Linked DNA regions of Homo sapiens. Changing the gene in region 1 together with any one later gene gives a genetic interaction. Each region holds a gene or a part of one and is shown in the gene's direction. Other genes may lie near its edges.

The links. Genes that interact genetically often act in the same process or in processes that back each other up.
Region 2: changes in CYP4F12 (region 1) and AXL together harm fitness more than expected from each alone (negative genetic interaction), as found in Homo sapiens cells (one large-scale study listed by BioGRID).
Region 3: changes in CYP4F12 (region 1) and FABP4 together harm fitness more than expected from each alone (negative genetic interaction), as found in Homo sapiens cells (one large-scale study listed by BioGRID).
Region 4: changes in CYP4F12 (region 1) and GPX1 together harm fitness more than expected from each alone (negative genetic interaction), as found in Homo sapiens cells (one large-scale study listed by BioGRID).

What each region holds. Positions count from the first base shown.
Region 1 is NC_000019.10:15,678,794-15,683,655, forward strand, and holds part of CYP4F12 (cytochrome P450 4F12), read left to right. Parts: intron 1-1,450; coding exon 1,451-1,504; exon of another isoform or gene 1,505-1,598; coding exon 1,599-1,726; intron 1,727-1,896; exon of another isoform or gene 1,897-2,920; coding exon of another isoform or gene 2,921-2,929; exon of another isoform or gene 2,930-3,316; intron 3,317-3,595; coding exon 3,596-3,717; intron 3,718-4,699; coding exon 4,700-4,862. UniProt on the Homo sapiens protein: A cytochrome P450 monooxygenase involved in the metabolism of endogenous polyunsaturated fatty acids (PUFAs).
Region 2 is NC_000019.10:41,217,183-41,222,022, forward strand, and holds the start of AXL (tyrosine-protein kinase receptor UFO isoform 1 precursor), read left to right. Parts: upstream 1-2,040; 5' UTR 2,041-2,210; coding exon 2,211-2,295; intron 2,296-3,453; coding exon 3,454-3,676; intron 3,677-3,963; coding exon 3,964-4,064; intron 4,065-4,697; coding exon 4,698-4,840. UniProt on the Homo sapiens protein: Receptor tyrosine kinase that transduces signals from the extracellular matrix into the cytoplasm by binding growth factor GAS6 and which is thus regulating many physiological processes including cell survival, cell proliferation, migration and differentiation.
Region 3 is NC_000008.11:81,480,434-81,485,177, reverse strand, and holds the start of FABP4 (fatty acid-binding protein, adipocyte), read left to right. Parts: upstream 1-1,944; 5' UTR 1,945-2,010; coding exon 2,011-2,083; intron 2,084-4,579; coding exon 4,580-4,744.
Region 4 is NC_000003.12:49,356,676-49,360,393, reverse strand, and holds GPX1 (glutathione peroxidase 1), read left to right. Parts: upstream 1-2,040; 5' UTR 2,041-2,115; coding exon 2,116-2,229; coding exon of another isoform or gene 2,230-2,412; exon of another isoform or gene 2,413-2,505; coding exon of another isoform or gene 2,506-2,568; exon of another isoform or gene 2,569-2,627; coding exon of another isoform or gene 2,628-2,646; coding exon 2,647-3,006; 3' UTR 3,007-3,218; downstream 3,219-3,718. Other genes in the region: transforming protein RhoA isoform 1 precursor, read left to right, coding at 12-185.

The sequences.
Region 1 (4,862 bases):
TTAAGTGTGGGGCAGGATGATGCAGTGGGCATCATTGGTATTTGGGGTCCCAGCCAGTCCTTGCACCAGCCTTGCCCATCCCTCAGTCCAAAGCGGTAGGAGGATTTGTGGCTGGTGGAGAATCTGGGCTGCTATTTATGTGACATCCACCTATGATGGGTCAGTTCCTTCTACCTCATCCTATCACTCATCCACCCTAAGTTTCCTGCTCTCCTCCTATGGGCTTCAGGATTCTCCAATAGGAGAACCCACACCAGCTGCTTGACCTCCCCTTGCTCTCTGCTCTTCTCATCCTTGGACACACCAGGCTGAGCTAGGGAAGTGGCAGCATCCCACAAAATCTATGGCTCTGACCCCCAAATCCTTAGTGACTCTGTGCAGGTCACCAGCTCTCTGGCTGCTGAGGTCTCTTTCAGTTGTGAGTGATGGAAACTCAACTTCGTGTGCTCTAAGCAAATAAAGAGAGTCAAAGGAGTGTAAATTTCAGGGAGGGTGGTCTTCAGGCATGGCTGAATCCAGGTGTCAATGAACATTATCAGGGATCTGTCTCCTTTTCTTAATTTCACCATTTCTCTGCATCACTTTTTCTTTTAAGGCAGCCGTTCTCTTATCTGTCAACCATGGGTCCTAGCAGCTCAGTTCTTGTCCGAAAGCTCACCTTACCCCCAGGGGTCCCATAAATAGCCGCCTATAGTTTCAATATTATACCTGGTTATATCTTTTCTGTTTAACCTGGGATCATATGGAGAAGTCATCATGTGTGTGGCTCAGCTGTGGTCGAGGACACTTGGGGCATGTCAGAGACTTTCTGGTTCTTCTCTGACATGTGATTTGAAATTGTCTTTTCTCCTCCTTGTCATCTCTTGGCCATGTTTGTAGCTTGTCCAAGGTCTGGGAGCTAGGGTCTCTTTGGAATTGTCAGAGTTATTATTTTAGTCTCCCTGAGCCAGGTTTCGGAATCCATTCTAATCACGCTTGAAGAAAACTCTTGGTTCCACCTGGGACATGTCTGGGACATTTAAGAAATCACATTTAAACCCTATCTGGGGCCTGTCTGTGGGGTACACAGAGGTCATGTCAGACTATCTCAGGTCCATGTCAGGAGATGACAGAGAGTGCTATGGCAGACAGGGTGTCCGAGGTCCTTTAAAGGTATTTTGTAGAGTGTGGAGCTGTGTTCAGTTGTTGCAGAACATGTTGGGATATATAGGAGCCATGTCAAGGCGTGCTGGGGTGTGCTATGACCTGTTAGGTTGTGTCATAGCTTTACTGTGCTGTTGCAGCCTGGGCTGGTCCTTCTTCCTCTATCCTCCCTTCGTCCTTTGCCCTTGGCCCCCTTCCTGCTATGCTGGGCATGGAGTGGGGAAAGTGCTGGTAGGCAGCCTTGCCCTATACCTGAAGTTCCTCTCTTGCCCTCTACATGGCCCCTGATGGTCCTCGTTCATGTCAGCTGCCATTGCACCCAAGGATAATCTCTTCATCAGGTTCCTGAAGCCCTGGCTGGGTGAGTACCTGCAGGTGAAAGGGGTTGGGGACAACCTTGCGGGGAGGGTAGGGGAAGTGCTGCTCTTGCCCACTGTCCTTGGCTGCCCTACTAGGAGAAGGGATACTGCTGAGTGGCGGTGACAAGTGGAGCCGCCACCGTCGGATGCTGACGCCCGCCTTCCATTTCAACATCCTGAAGTCCTATATAACGATCTTCAACAAGAGTGCAAACATCATGCTTGTGAGTCCCTTGAAGTCTGGGTCCCAGATGGAGTCTTGGGGTGGAGGGACCATGGACACATCTGGTCTGGAATTTTGGCTCTTCTGGGTGGCACTGGGCCATTGCTCTTCCTCTCTGAGCCTTGGTTTCCTCATCTGTAAAATGGGGATGATAATCCCTACTTGAAAGGTCATTTACTTGGCACACAGTAGGTTCTCAGAAGGTGTCAGTTTCTGTGTTTTTCTCACAGAATCCCTGTAAACTCAAGAGAGTAAAAATGAAGATTGTGTAGTAGTCATTGCTGATTATAAACCACTTCAGAACTCATTGGCTTAGAGCCATAAGGGTTTACAATTGCTAACGAGTCTGTGAGACAGCTGGCCAGTTCTTCTGGATGTGGAAGGGATCACTCTTGGCACATGAGCAGCTGTGGGTCGGGGGGCAGCTTTGCTGATCCTGGCTCAGTTCATTCACGTTTGGGGCTTCAGTACCTTCAGACTCATCTGGGATGGGCTCAGCTGTGACACCTGGACTTTCCCCCATGTGATTCTCTGCCTCCAGAAGGCACCCTGTTGTTCACATGGCAGAGACTGGGCTCCGAGAAACTGAGAGGAGGCTGCAATGTCTGTGGACATTGTCTCTGCAATACTTCAAAGTTCAACCAGGTTTGAGTCTATTAGAGTTATTACATCATCATTTCACCACATTGTACTGGCCAAAGAAAGTCGAAAGTCAAAAGTCCAGTACAGACTCAAAGGGGTGTAAAATAGAACGCATCTCTTAATGGGAGTTGCTGAAAAATTACTGTGGAAAGGGTACGAATACAGGGAGAAGTGAAGAATTGGGGGTCAGGATTTTGTGAAGTGTCTAGGATTTGTTTTAAATATGCAAACTGATAAGTTAGCTTGTTACTGTCTCATGCATTCTAACAGATTCCTGGGTCAGAGACAAAGGGTAGTTGATTACTCATGGCACAATAAGCAACATGTACTTCTTGTTGGTTTGTATCCTTTTTCTGAGTCAACCTAAATTCCATGGGGGTGACACTGGTGGGCCTCTACATTAGCCTGCTCATGCAGTACATTGCATGACATACAATGGGCATTAGGCTTAGGGAATCTACTTTAATAGTGGCAGAAACAAGCCTGATATTGGTCCAGGAGGAGTCATTGCCTTATCTCTCCAGGTGGTTATCTGCAAATACAACTCTGAGAAATGGCTCAGGTAAGAACATCACAGTCTTGCATTGGTGGCATACGCAGCAAGGATGCTCAGGGCTGATGAAGAAGTGCCTCTTCCAACACAGGGATATTTTTGAAATGAATTTATTACAATGGAGATGAATAAAGCAAACATTTACTCATCATATGCCTGAGAAAATGTCATGTCCCAATGCCAGGATATAAGTTGTCTAAGTTAATTTTAATAATCCTGTGAGGTTATGGTTATTTTTGTCCTATTGCAGATGATGAACTGAGGGCCAGAGAGATTAGGGAGCTGGACAGAGTTCAACCAGCCAGGAAGTGAGCTAGGACTGGTGGAGCAGAGATTCTATCCTGGTTTATCTGGCCCCAAAGCAGATCACCTTGACCGTTATTGAATATTTGACAGGTGGGACCTAGAGGAGGGCAATATGTTGACCAAGGGCACATAGAGCATAGGAGACAGAGCTGAGACTTGAATGCAGGTCTCTTGACTCCAAGCCATGGGTCTTCATCTCCTATACTAACAGTTTCTGCTCGCATCCCAGTCTGGTCCTCGCTGGCAATGGGTTCCTGGGGCAGAGGACCAGGAGGCTGGTTGTGGGGGAGTCCATCCTGATGTTTGGGACTGGGGAGGGGCACAAAGGAGGCAGGGCCCAGCTCTAGCTCTCTTCCCTTCTCTGGCCAGGACAAGTGGCAGCACCTGGCCTCAGAGGGCAGCAGTCGTCTGGACATGTTTGAGCACATCAGCCTCATGACCTTGGACAGTCTACAGAAATGCATCTTCAGCTTTGACAGCCATTGTCAGGAGTGAGTTCCTTCCTAGGGCCTGGGATATGAATCCATGGACCAAAGGGAGAAAGTTGGGGAGGGAGGAATGAGCAAAGTAACCAGAAGTACCTTTCGGGAGGATTTGTATCATAGCTGTGCTTTGAAGGTCGAGGAAGAGGAGAAAGTGCTGTCTTTCCAGGTAGAAATATGTGTGTAAAAGCAAGAAGGTTAGGATGAGCCAAGCATGTGCAAGAGACAGTAGAAATGAGGTTGTGGAAGTAGGGGCTAGATATTAAGGGCACTGAAAATCAGGAAAAGTGGTATGAAGTTTATCAAGACATTTCCAGAGACCTTTTGTAGTTTCAGCTGATGATGGATGTGATAAGAGCTGAGCTGTGTGGGAAACTGATAGCCCACCACCACGCCCAGCTAATTTCTGTATTTTCAGTAGAGAGGGGGTTCACCATGTTGTCCAGGCTGGTCTCAAATTCCTGACCTCAGGTGATGTGCCCTCTTTGGCCTCAGAAAATGTTGGGATTACAGGCATGAGCCACTGTGCCCAGCTGCTTCTTCTTTCTTACAGGGTGAAAGAGAGAGGGAGAGAGAGAGAGACAGAGAGACAGAGAGAGAGAGAGAGAAAGAGAGAGAGAGTTGGTTATGCTGGGGGCTGGAGCAGGGCTGAACTGGAAGAGGATGAAGTCTGAGTTGTGTGGACAGTTTTGGTAAGGAAAATGATCAGTACTGCATACTGGATGGGAGACAGAGGAGAGAAGCATGGTGTCCAAGCTATACTCTAGGTGCCTAGGTGCATGGAGACAGCTCTCTCAGAGATAGGATGCAGGGAGAGAAGACAGTCTAGAGAGTCAGTCTCATGACTGATACCCACCATGTATCTCTAGGACCATCTATTTCTAGATACTCAGTTTCCTGATGGGAGGTAGCTCCTGGCTGCTGGTGGGAGGTGTTCCTGGGGCTTTGCATACGTTACATTGTTGCCTCCCTTTCTGCCCTTGCTCTGCAGGAGGCCCAGTGAATATATTGCCACCATCTTGGAGCTCAGTGCCCTTGTAGAGAAAAGAAGCCAGCATATCCTCCAGCACATGGACTTTCTGTATTACCTCTCCCATGACGGGCGGCGCTTCCACAGGGCCTGCCGCCTGGTGCATGACTTCACAGACGCTGTC
Region 2 (4,840 bases), about 26 Mb from region 1:
GGGTGAGAAAGCGAGAGAAGCCTGGGGAGGCGAGGGGAGGGTCACAGAAACATAAGGAGTTTAGGGTTCTGCTGAAAGGTTTGGGGCAGAGGTGGGAAAGGGTTTGGTTTGAGATTGGGAAGAAGCCTTCTGACTGTTGAGTGGGAGACAGGTTGGAAGGAGCAACAGAAGCCAGCAGCCCATGGCCGGGCACAGTGACCCACGCCTGTAATCCCAGCCCTTTGGGAGGCCGAGGCGGGCAGATCACGAGTTCAGGAGTTCCAGACCAGCCTGGCCAACATGGTGAAACCCCGTCTCTACCAAAAATACAAAAATTAACCTGGCATGGTGGTGCACACCTGTAATCCCAGCAACTCAGGAAGCTGAGGTGGGAGGATCACTTGAACCCAGGAGATGGAGGTTGCAGTGAGCCGAGATCGAGCCATTGCACTCCAGCCTGGGCAACAAAGCAAGACTGGGTCTCAAAAAAAAAAAAAAAAAAAAAGACACAGCCCAGGGAGACAACGGTGAAGGGCCCTAAGTGGCCAGTGACAAGGAGCTGGGAGCTTGCCCTGAGGGCAGCAGGAGGCCATGGGCAAGCAGAGAAGGGACAGGGTAGGATTTGACTTTCAGAAACAGTCCTCTGGTTGCTAAATGGGAGAAAGGAGTGACAGTAGAGGCAGGAGAAGGCAGGATCAGACGGGGGTGCTGGGAAGGGGCAGGTAGAAGAGACATCAGGAGGCCAAACAGATAGGACTTTATGATGCACCGTAGGTATACCAGTACCCAAACACAGGTGGCCAAGAGCAGAGGGATAGACGCCCAGCCTCCTCCTCACAGACATCCAGGCATGCAGAGCCCTCCACGTGCCAAACACACAGGGCCGAGGAATGGAAGTGCAGCAGAGCCGATACGCAGGCAGCAGATCTGCAATAACCAGGACACACAGTCCCACCAGAAGGAGAGAGCAGTGGAATGATCAGGGCTCACTGCAGCCTCGATCTCTTGGACTCAAGCGTTCCTCTCACTCCAGCCTCCCTAGTAGCTGGGACCACAGGCACACGCCATGATACCTGGTTAAGTTTTAATTTTTAAACTTCTTGTAGAGATGGGGGTCTCAGTGCATTGACCAGTCTGGTCTCGAACTCCTGGGCTCAAGCGATCCTCCCACCTTGGCCTCCCAAAGTGCTGGGATTACAGGAGTGAGTTACTGTGCCCGGCCAACAACTATTCTTATTCCCATTTTACAGATGGACAAACTGAGGCTCAGGAGGCCAGTCACTTGCCTGTAGCCCACAGTTAGTGGTAGCACTGGGATTCCAACTTGGGTCCCCTTCATGTCGCCTGTATTTGGTGTCCCATTTAGGCGTCCATGCAGGTTTTGGCGTGTCTGAAGATCTGTGTCTCCCCAAGTAAGTGTCCCCCATGGATGCCCACCCAGCCGTGTCCTCCTGTCTCTGAGGTTTCTCCAGGAATCGAGCTCCTGGCCTGGCTTGTCTGAGTGTGTCTGTGGGCCAGTAGCATGCCCCTGCCCGTCTGGGTCCCTCTGCGTGTCTCTGCTTGTCCTAGCCTGTGTGTGTCAGTGACGTCTAAGAGTGTGTGTGCGTGCGTGCGTGCGTGCGTGTGTGTGTGTGTGTGTGTGTCCTTGTCCGAGGAGCCGAGAGAGTGAGGGGGAATGAAGGGCCAAGGAGGCCTGGCTGGGGCTGGGCTGGGGGTGGAGGCGGGGAGAGGGGCGTCACGGCCTGAGCTGAGAGGGGAGTGGAGTTCTGGAGGAATGTTTACCAGACACAGAGCCCAGAGGGACAGCGCCCAGAGCCCGGATAGAGAGACACGGCCTCACTGGCTCAGGACAGGGGGCACAGCCACCAGGGTCCCCTTCCCCCTCCTCAGCTCCCTCCCTGGCCCCTTTAAGAAAGAGCTGATCCTCTCCTCTCTTGAGTTAACCCCTGATTGTCCAGGTGGCCCCTGGGCTCTGGCCCTGGTGGGCGGAGGCAAAGGGGGAGCCAGGGGCGGAGAAAGGGTTGCCCAAGTCTGGGAGTGAGGGAAGGAGGCAGGGGTGCTGAGAAGGCGGCTGCTGGGCAGAGCCGGTGGCAAGGGCCTCCCCTGCCGCTGTGCCAGGCAGGCAGTGCCAAATCCGGGGAGCCTGGAGCTGGGGGGAGGGCCGGGGACAGCCCGGCCCTGCCCCCTCCCCCGCTGGGAGCCCAACAACTTCTGAGGAAAGTTTGGCACCCATGGCGTGGCGGTGCCCCAGGATGGGCAGGGTCCCGCTGGCCTGGTGCTTGGCGCTGTGCGGCTGGGCGTGCATGGCCCCCAGGGGTGAGTGATGGGGGCTCCTTGGGGCAGGGATCCCCTCGGAGGGGCTGGGGCAGGGGTAGGAGGTGGGGGATGATGGCAGGTGTGGGGGGCCTGGGCTGGCTTAGGGAGTTTCCTTGGGACCACAGAAAAGGGACTTCAAGGGAGGGAGACACAGACTCAGAGACACCAAGTGCGGCAGAGGGAGAGAAAGACTGAGAGAGGAACTGAAGGGCAGGGGGGACAGAAGAGAGGACCCGGAGAGACAGACAGACAAGGAGAAGCTGAGGGCAGGGGTGGGGGCTGGACCTGAGAAGGGGGCCATGGGGAGAGGGGCTGAGCTGAGGGTCGCCAGGAAGGAAGAAATCTTTCCGAAGGGGCACCGAGTCAGGCAGTGGGATGAGGAGGGCTCTGGAGCCCTGGGGGAAAACGCTTCTCCCTGCCAACACCACCCCCCTGACCCGCCACTTGTCCCTACCCCACCAGTCCACTCCATCTCTGGGGAGGAGGCTCTCACTTTGTCTCTCTGTCTCTGCCTCCAGCTCTGCTATCTCTGTGGGTCTCTGTTTCTCTCTCTTTCACAGTCTCTGCCTTTATCTCTCCCTGCTCTCTGAGTCTCTCTCTCTCTTCTCAGCCTCCCTCTGTGACTGTATCCCCCCTCCGCCCCCACCTTTTCTTCTCTCTTGAGGGCTGTTTCTTCATTTTTTCTGTCTTGCCTTGTATCTGTGCTCCTCTCTGTCTCATCTCCCCTGCCTTTCTCTGGCTTCTCCCTCCGCCACCACCCTTATCTCCCCCCACCACCACCCTTATCTCTCTCCCCCAACCCCTGATTCTTCCCCTCCATCCACCAGCACCAGCGCGACCTGTTAAGTCTCTAGAGACCTAAGAGAGGACGGAGGGGGCAGGGGCTGGCCCTGCCAGGCAGTGCAGGGCGTGGGAGGCTGCCAGATCCCGAGCCTCCTTCCCGACGGGATGGACGCTAGATCCCAGTCCCTTGGGAGGGCTCCCGTCCTCCTCTCAGAGCCTCCGCCCTCCACCCCACTCTGAGGTCACTCTGCAACTATGTCGGCCTAAGGGCCTGGCGGGGTCCTGGCCGCCGGTGGGCAGGCAAGGACAGGGTGGAACTGAGGGCCGGAAGGAGCTGGGGGGTTCCTAAGCTAACTCTTCCCATCTCCCCTCCAGGCACGCAGGCTGAAGAAAGTCCCTTCGTGGGCAACCCAGGGAATATCACAGGTGCCCGGGGACTCACGGGCACCCTTCGGTGTCAGCTCCAGGTTCAGGGAGAGCCCCCCGAGGTACATTGGCTTCGGGATGGACAGATCCTGGAGCTCGCGGACAGCACCCAGACCCAGGTGCCCCTGGGTGAGGATGAACAGGATGACTGGATAGTGGTCAGCCAGCTCAGGTGTGTGGCCACATCCCCGAATCCCACTCCCACCTCCGTCACACAGAGGGCAGAAAGCCCACCTGGGTGGGAACCCCAGTTTGACCACTTGTCAGCCGTGCGGCTTTGAGCATGTGATGGAACCTCTAGGTTTCGTTTTCCTCTTCTGCAAAATGAGTTAATAATAGGACATACTTCGTGGTTGTCATGAGCTTCCAGACTGGACACCCTCTTTCCGTTCTGACAGACCCCCTCCCAGTGTCCAGCTCTGACCCTGAACCTCTCTGTCTCTCCTCTTGCCCTGTCAGAATCACCTCCCTGCAGCTTTCCGACACGGGACAGTACCAGTGTTTGGTGTTTCTGGGACATCAGACCTTCGTGTCCCAGCCTGGCTATGTTGGGCTGGAGGGTGAGCTCTGGGGTCAGGGGTCCTGAGGGGTCAGAGGACATGTGGCGCTCATAGGTTGTGGGAAGTCAGGAATCCTGAGGGGTCAAGGTCAAAGGGTGCTGGAGGATTCAGGATGAACCTAGCGTCATACAGCCTAAGAATGTCAGAGTTTTGGGTGGTCAAGAAGCTGGGAGTCCATATAAGTTATGGTGCCAAGGCTGGGGGATTATATGTTCTGGGTGAAAAGACTTCTTGGGGGTAGTTGGATGTCCTAGGCATCAGACACCATCAGGTCACAGGAGGCCATTCTGGTCTTCAGATAAGGCGTCAGAGGCACGCAACGTACCCCTGTCCCCACGACCCCAGCGGTCTCTTTTTTCTCATCCATAGAATGAGATGAGGATGAGCTGTCAGACATTCTGGAAGAGAGACATGAGGAGCTCAGCTATCGTGGGGGGTCTGACATGGGAGGAATCAGATATTGGGGTCACGTGTGTGTTGGGTATGGCTCAGGTGCCCTCGGGGATCAGATAAGGCAAGTCAATGACCCTGCAGGGTGGGTTTGCTGCCCAAAGCCTACAGCATCCTAGTGGTGAGTCAGGCATCTTGGGGCCTCAGAGGGACCCCAGCCTCTACCACTGCCCACCCCGCTAGGCTTGCCTTACTTCCTGGAGGAGCCCGAAGACAGGACTGTGGCCGCCAACACCCCCTTCAACCTGAGCTGCCAAGCTCAGGGACCCCCAGAGCCCGTGGACCTACTCTGGCTCCAGGATGCTGTCCCCCTGGCCACGGCTCCA
Region 3 (4,744 bases), on another chromosome or scaffold:
TAGACAATTGGAGACTCCAAAAGGTGGGAAGGTGGGAAGGTGGGAGGGGGCAAGGGATAAGAAATTACCTATCAGGGCCGGGCACAGTGGCTCACGCCTGTAATCCCAGCACTTTGGGAGACTGAGGCGAGTGGGTCACCTGAGGTCAGGAGTTCAAGACCAGCCTGGCCAACATGGCGAAACCCTGTCTCTACTAAAAATATGAGAAAAAAAATTATCCAGGCATGTGGTGGGCACCTGTAATCCCCGCTACTAGGGAGGCTGAGGTAGGAGAATCGCTTGAACCTGGGAGGCAGAGGTTGCAGTGAGCCAAGATCGCGCCACTGCATTCCAGCCTGGACAATAAAATCAAAACTCCATCTCAAAAAAAAAAAAAAAAAAGAAAGAAATTACCAATTGAGTACAATATACACTATTTGGGTGATGATTACACTAAAAGTCCAGACTTTATTACAACTCAATATACATATGTAACAAAAATGCACATGTAGTCCGAAATCTATAGAAACAAAAATTTTAAAAAACCAAATTGCAGTGTTAGAATACACATAGTATGTATTCAAATTCAATCATTTAAAAACCTGTAGGAAGCAAATTAATTTAAAACATTATCAAAAACATCCCTCTATTAAGATTTGTCACTTTTATTTACTTTCCATCTGAACAGTCTTATTCAATGGGAAACAGGTGGATCACTAATAGCAAGCCTACCTGGATGGTACATCACCACAGTCTGTGTATCTATGCAACAGTCCAGAGTAGATGAGCGTTATTACTGTGCCATTAACAAATGCAAAACCTAACTTTATCAGGCTTTCATAGCAACTTGCTTTCCTACAGAAAATCCTGTTGCTTACAGAATTTCCTGCCACAAACATTTTTGGGAAGCCCTCAGGACACTTACACAGGCTTGTGAATCAATCACATGCTCAGCAGGTACTGTTCAGTGGGATACACAGTGTAGCGATGCATCACTCTGAAATATTTTAGTTTCTTTTTTTCCCCTAAATCTGGGTATGTTCGTGGGAATTTGCAGCACATGTGAACAACTTCTGTCATTCTTGCATGAGGCAAAGGGAATTGAAAACCACGATTACTTTAGAAAACTAGTTTCACAGATTGGTCACTGTATAAAAGAAGGATATTGGTTTTGGTAGCTTGTGACCACACACCATTTCTGATCTGAATAAATTCAGAACTTATAATACAGTTCAGAAATTGAATGCAGTTTCTCAATATGAGGAAAGTATTTTAGAATAAGGCCTATTTTTCAAAGGATCTGTGGAAATCAATGCTATGCTCTCATTTAGGAGATGGAAAGAGTGAGGTTAAATTATCATTTCGATTAAATCTACAGTCCAGATTACTGGTGGATGAATTGAATGTACTTTTTTATTCATATAAAACATTTGAAATCAGAAATCTGGAGTACTTTTAAATCCCATTATTTATTTTGTTTTAATCGCCAGGTAATTCCTGAGACAGGAGTGTCCCGAAGAGCCTTTGCAATTATGTAAGAATCTCCGAGGCAGTTCTTATGTTCCTCAATTCAAAAGAACCACATAACTGCAATTTAAATAACACCCCACACACACACACAAAATAAGGTCGAAGTTTATCTCAAAATAATTTCCCCTCTCTACACTGGGATAAATATGTATAGGAATAATAGGGGGAAATTCAGTGCACTGAGCATTAAGCTGTCAAAACAGGAATGTTTAAAATATCCTGTTAGTGGTTTAAAAATAATTTGTACTCTAAGTCCAGTGACTATTTGCCAGGGAGAACCAAAGTTGAGAAATTTCTATTAAAAACATGACTCAGAGAAAAAAATGCAGAGGCCGGTAATGAAGGAAATGATTGGATCTCATTCCCAATTGGTCATTCCTAAGATCACATGTTCTGAGCATCTTTAAAAGGAAGTTATCTGGACTCAAGAGGGTCACAGCACCCTCCTGAAAACTGCAGCTTCCTTCTCACCTTGAAGAATAATCCTAGAAAACTCACAAAATGTGTGATGCTTTTGTAGGTACCTGGAAACTTGTCTCCAGTGAAAACTTTGATGATTATATGAAAGAAGTAGGTAAGGAAATGCGTTGTGGAATGACTGGATTTATAATATTTTCTTTTGGGAAAAAGAGTTTACAGCTGTGTTTATAGCAATGTCTGGAAGCCCTGGCCAGAAATGAAAAATGCTGCTTTCTATAGAGAGGCTGCACACATAGCAAGTGATAATCATTTGTTTCTAGAGAAATTCTGAACCAAAGCTACAACTAATGTTTCCTAAAGGTGTACCAATATAAAAAGGTGTCTAAATGGAATGTTTATTGTCTTTAGAAATGATAAGATTTGACTTTATTTGAAAAACTTGGGTATCCTTGGTTTACTTAGCTCTTTGCCTGTTTCTCTTTCATCCCCTTTTGCATGTAAATTAAGCAATAACTTGGAAAAAAGTTAGTATGCAATAATTTTCATTTCAAACTGAAAGCACTCTAGTTCCCTTAATGCAAGGTTCTTTTTCAGTAACCGTATGTTAGCCAATTATTTTCTTGTCTCAATGTTAATCTATTAAAATATGTGGTTGTTTTATGATAGACAAAAATTTTAATTTCAGAAAATATGTTTCTTAAATGGCTTAAATACTTCCTTTGACTAGAAATGACATAGTATGCCATAGAATTATCAACCAATTTAAAAGGAGAATGTTACGCATATAACATACCTCTTCTTTGATAGTAGAGGTTTTTAATTTTTTAGACGCTGTTAACTGTCAGCATGTCATTGGATGAATGTCTCTCAGATAACTATGGAGGTAAATCAGAAAAGACAACTTCTCACTCAGGCAGCTTCTACTTTGAAAACCTTTCTCCCTCAACCCCATGCATGACAGTCCAATAAAGTCAGAACTGGGGTTAGCAAACTGGGGAGGAATTTTATGCAATCTTAGGGTTTAGAATGTAATCATTAAATCGCAAAACACTTAACCCTCCTGTAAATTATACAGTATATATTTTTTTGCTTGTCTGTAACTATGTTTCTTGTTTTTAGATGATAGGGAAATTGGTGACTTCAGCATGAGAGAGACTTTCTAGAATAAACTAGAGTGATTCAATAAACTAATTAATATGCACTGATGCAGAAAAGCCAGGATTTGGGGCCATTTAACTATTTATTTTTAGAAAAATGTTATACTTTTAATATTTATATTTTCTAATAATACTGTGTTTTTAAATTATAAAGGGCTGATTATAATTAAAGTCAATAAAACACCTTCTGCATGAAATTAGCTGCTGTAATTGAGGATGAGTGGGCAGGTATTGTCTTCATCATCAAATAAAAGCAAAATCAAGCAAATGGAGACTGGTTTTTCCCAAGGTCAGTCATTCTAGAATCACACTCAGTTTTGCCTGCATTCACGAAGTGGACTCACTTCATACATTTAATGTTATATTTTGTAACTGAGCCAGGACATGAAGACACACCTGTGGCCATTTTTCAGACAGACAGCCAAATCGGAGCCTCAGCATTACTTATTTTGCGCCATATATCTCTCCCAGTTCTTCCCAATTTCTAACCTTTGGTTGCCTTTAGTCAAAGAAAGAGCTTAGATTTACATGCACATGTTTAAAAAATTCAGCAAATCTATGACTGCCATAAACTCTGCATGACATACACAGTGTCAGCAAGTTACTGCTATGTTAGGCTGTAAATTATTCATTCCATACCTTGCACAAGAAAATATATTCCCCTTTTTAAGAAAGAAAAGTTCACAACTTAGGTGACTGGAAATCAAAGTATTGGCTTCTAACCTATTTTAAACTAAGAAATAGTGATTTATTAAATGTTAAAGTTTTCACAATTTGATGACTAGTCCCTTTTAAATATCCCCTATAAATTATTAGCAATGATATCACCATTCTAAAATGTTATAAATGTAGGAAACATTTTGCCTTTTGTAGAAATTCATGAAAATCTTCATTTCATGGTGGAGTAATTTGAGAAAGAAGCACAGAAAAGTAGACTTGGCAACAAATGCTATGAAATGTGACTTTTGTATACTCAAAACAGACGAACCTTTAACTAAATAACTCTACATTAACCCCCAAAATTCTGTTGAAAATTCTGTCTTTGTGCCTTCTTAAATGTAATATTGAGTATCTAAGATGGAATGGTCAAGTAGCCTCAAGTATTTTATTAAGAGAGAAAAATAACAGTGGCTAACATTTTAAATATATATCTTCCCAACCACTTAACCTTTATACATATTTTTGTTGAAAATAAACAATGGGTCTCCTGAGAAGTTGTATCCAGACCAGAGAAAGGGAAGTTTAAAGAATAGGCCTACACCTATTGTTTCTCAGAGGTTGTGTTTTTGTTTTCTTTGTGGGTTTTCTTTTTTTTTTTTTTTTAAGTATTGGCCTGATTTTATCTGCAGGAGCTGTTTAAATTAGGCCTTTAAGAAACTCTCTGTGCCTTTTTCCTCCTGCACATGCACCTGTGTGCACACACACATTCTCTGACTTGGATAAGTACGTGAGAGAAAATGTAAATCTGACATCTTTTCTTTTCCTAACTGTAGGAGTGGGCTTTGCCACCAGGAAAGTGGCTGGCATGGCCAAACCTAACATGATCATCAGTGTGAATGGGGATGTGATCACCATTAAATCTGAAAGTACCTTTAAAAATACTGAGATTTCCTTCATACTGGGCCAGGAATTTGACGAAGTCACTGCAGATGACAGGA
Region 4 (3,718 bases), on another chromosome or scaffold:
TTCTTTGCTAGGAGCCGGTGAAACCTGAAGAAGGCAGAGATATGGCAAACAGGATTGGCGCTTTTGGGTACATGGAGTGTTCAGCAAAGACCAAAGATGGAGTGAGAGAGGTTTTTGAAATGGCTACGAGAGCTGCTCTGCAAGCTAGACGTGGGAAGAAAAAATCTGGGTGCCTTGTCTTGTGAAACCTTGCTGCAAGCACAGCCCTTATGCGGTTAATTTTGAAGTGCTGTTTATTAATCTTAGTGTATGATTACTGGCCTTTTTCATTTATCTATAATTTACCTAAGATTACAAATCAGAAGTCATCTTGCTACCAGTATTTAGAAGCCAACTATGATTATTAACGATGTCCAACCCGTCTGGCCCACCAGGGTCCTTTTGACACTGCTCTAACAGCCCTCCTCTGCACTCCCACCTGACACACCAGGCGCTAATTCAAGGAATTTCTTAACTTCTTGCTTCTTTCTAGAAAGAGAAACAGTTGGTAACTTTTGTGAATTAGGCTGTAACTACTTTATAACTAACATGTCCTGCCTATTATCTGTCAGCTGCAAGGTACTCTGGTGAGTCACCACTTCAGGGCTTTACTCCGTAACAGATTTTGTTGGCATAGCTCTGGGGTGGGCAGTTTTTTGAAAATGGGCTCAACCAGAAAAGCCCAAGTTCATGCAGCTGTGGCAGAGTTACAGTTCTGTGGTTTCATGTTAGTTACCTTATAGTTACTGTGTAATTAGTGCCACTTAATGTATGTTACCAAAAATAAATATATCTACCCCAGACTAGATGTAGTATTTTTTGTATAATTGGATTTCCTAATACTGTCATCCTCAAAGAAAGTGTATTGGTTTTTTAAAAAAGAAAGTGTATTTGGAAATAAAGTCAGATGGAAAATTCATTTTTTAAATTCCCGTTTTGTCACTTTTTCTGATAAAAGATGGCCATATTACCCCTTTTCGGCCCCATGTATCTCAGTACCCCATGGAGCTGGGCTAAGTAAATAGGAATTGGTTTCACGCCTGAGGCAATTAGACACTTTGGAAGATGGCATAACCTGTCTCACCTGGACTTAAGCATCTGGCTCTAATTCACAGTGCTCTTTTCTCCTCACTGTATCCAGGTTCCCTCCCAGAGGAGCCACCAGTTCTCATGGGTGGCACTCAGTCTCTCTTCTCTCCAGCTGACTAAACTTTTTTTCTGTACCAGTTAATTTTTCCAACTACTAATAGAATAAAGGCAGTTTTCTAAACTTCCTGTATCCTGTTGTTTGTGTTGCTCTCTCCAGGGCTGGGGGTAGGAGGATGCAAGGACTTCCTGGCCTAGCTCACCCTGGAGAGGTTTGTTGAGTGCAAAGGACTAGCTTGTGCCCCACCTCCCACCCACCCAGCAGCTAATCTGGTCCCTCCCAACAACATGGAAATGATTACCCTGTACCGCATTCTGGTTCAGATTTGGGGGTAGGGTGAATGCAGCCTGAGGAGGCCAGGGAGGGAGGACTCCGGCAGCGTTTCCTTGGCCTCGGCGAGCTACTGGGCTCCACTTAAGGAGGCTGGGGCAGAGCTTCCAGGACTCTGCCCGGTTAGAAAACCCGCACGAGGGCGGTGCCGCTTTGGAGACAGGGAGGAGGGAGACCGGAAGCCTAGATCCCTCTGGCTGTCCCCTGCACTGCCGGTAACATGGCACAGGAGAGGAGGGCTGTTTGTGCACGGGCAGCTCCTGCAGCTGCTGCCGTCGCCCACCAGCCTCCTATGCCAAACCCCACATCCTAACTCAGGAACCTCTGAGAAAAAACGGAGCCCTCGAGGGCCCCAGCCCTTGGAAGGGTAACCTGGACCGCTGCCGCCTGGTTGCCTGGGCCAGACCAGACATGCCTGCTGCTCCTTCCGGCTTAGGAGGAGCACGCGTCCCGCTCGGGCGCACTCTCCAGCCTTTTCCTGGCTGAGGAGGGGCCGAGCCCTCCGGGTAGGGCGGGGGCCGGATGAGGCGGGACCCTCAGGCCCGGAAAACTGCCTGTGCCACGTGACCCGCCGCCGGCCAGTTAAAAGGAGGCGCCTGCTGGCCTCCCCTTACAGTGCTTGTTCGGGGCGCTCCGCTGGCTTCTTGGACAATTGCGCCATGTGTGCTGCTCGGCTAGCGGCGGCGGCGGCGGCGGCCCAGTCGGTGTATGCCTTCTCGGCGCGCCCGCTGGCCGGCGGGGAGCCTGTGAGCCTGGGCTCCCTGCGGGGCAAGGTACTACTTATCGAGAATGTGGCGTCCCTCTGAGGCACCACGGTCCGGGACTACACCCAGATGAACGAGCTGCAGCGGCGCCTCGGACCCCGGGGCCTGGTGGTGCTCGGCTTCCCGTGCAACCAGTTTGGGCATCAGGTGCGCCGGGCGGAGCGGGGCGGGGCGGGGGCGGACGTGCAGTAGTGGCTGGGGGCGCCGGCGGTGTGCTGGTGGGTGCCGTCGGCTCCATGCGCGGAGAGTCTGGCTACTCTCTCGTTTCCTTTCTGTTGCTCGTAGCTGCTGAAATTCCTCTCCGCCCTTGGGATTGCGCATGGAGGGCAAAATCCCGGTGACTCATAGAAAATCTCCCTTGTTTGTGGTTAGAACGTTTCTCTCCTCCTCTTGACCCCGGGTTCTAGCTGCCCTTCTCTCCTGTAGGAGAACGCCAAGAACGAAGAGATTCTGAATTCCCTCAAGTACGTCCGGCCTGGTGGTGGGTTCGAGCCCAACTTCATGCTCTTCGAGAAGTGCGAGGTGAACGGTGCGGGGGCGCACCCTCTCTTCGCCTTCCTGCGGGAGGCCCTGCCAGCTCCCAGCGACGACGCCACCGCGCTTATGACCGACCCCAAGCTCATCACCTGGTCTCCGGTGTGTCGCAACGATGTTGCCTGGAACTTTGAGAAGTTCCTGGTGGGCCCTGACGGTGTGCCCCTACGCAGGTACAGCCGCCGCTTCCAGACCATTGACATCGAGCCTGACATCGAAGCCCTGCTGTCTCAAGGGCCCAGCTGTGCCTAGGGCGCCCCTCCTACCCCGGCTGCTTGGCAGTTGCAGTGCTGCTGTCTCGGGGGGGTTTTCATCTATGAGGGTGTTTCCTCTAAACCTACGAGGGAGGAACACCTGATCTTACAGAAAATACCACCTCGAGATGGGTGCTGGTCCTGTTGATCCCAGTCTCTGCCAGACCAAGGCGAGTTTCCCCACTAATAAAGTGCCGGGTGTCAGCAGAACTGTGTGTATGTCCTGTGTCATTGTCATTTGGGAATTCTTTTTCTTTTCTTTTTTTTTTTTTTTTTTTGAGACGGAGTTTTTTGCTCTATTGCCCAGGCTGGAGTGCAGTGGCGCAATCTAGGCTCACTGCAAGCTCCGCCTCCCGGGTTCACGCCATTCTCCTGCCTCAACCTCCTGAGTAGCTGGGACTACAGGTGCCTGCCACCACGCCCGGCTAATTTTTTGTATTTTTAGTAGAGACAGGGTTTCACCGTGTTAGCCAGGATGGTATCGATCTCCTGACCTCGTGATCCACCCGCCTCGGCCTCCCAAAGTGCTGGGATTACAGGTATGAGCCACCGCACCCGGCCTGGCGATACTTTTTCTAACCTCATTGTCATAGTGGTGGGAACTTAATCCTCCTTCCCTTATCCTAGCCAAGTCTGAACTTTCTGTCCTTTTGTCTGCAGCGTGTAGGATCCACTCTTTCCTTTGTGGGAAGTCTGGCTCCTGGCCTGCA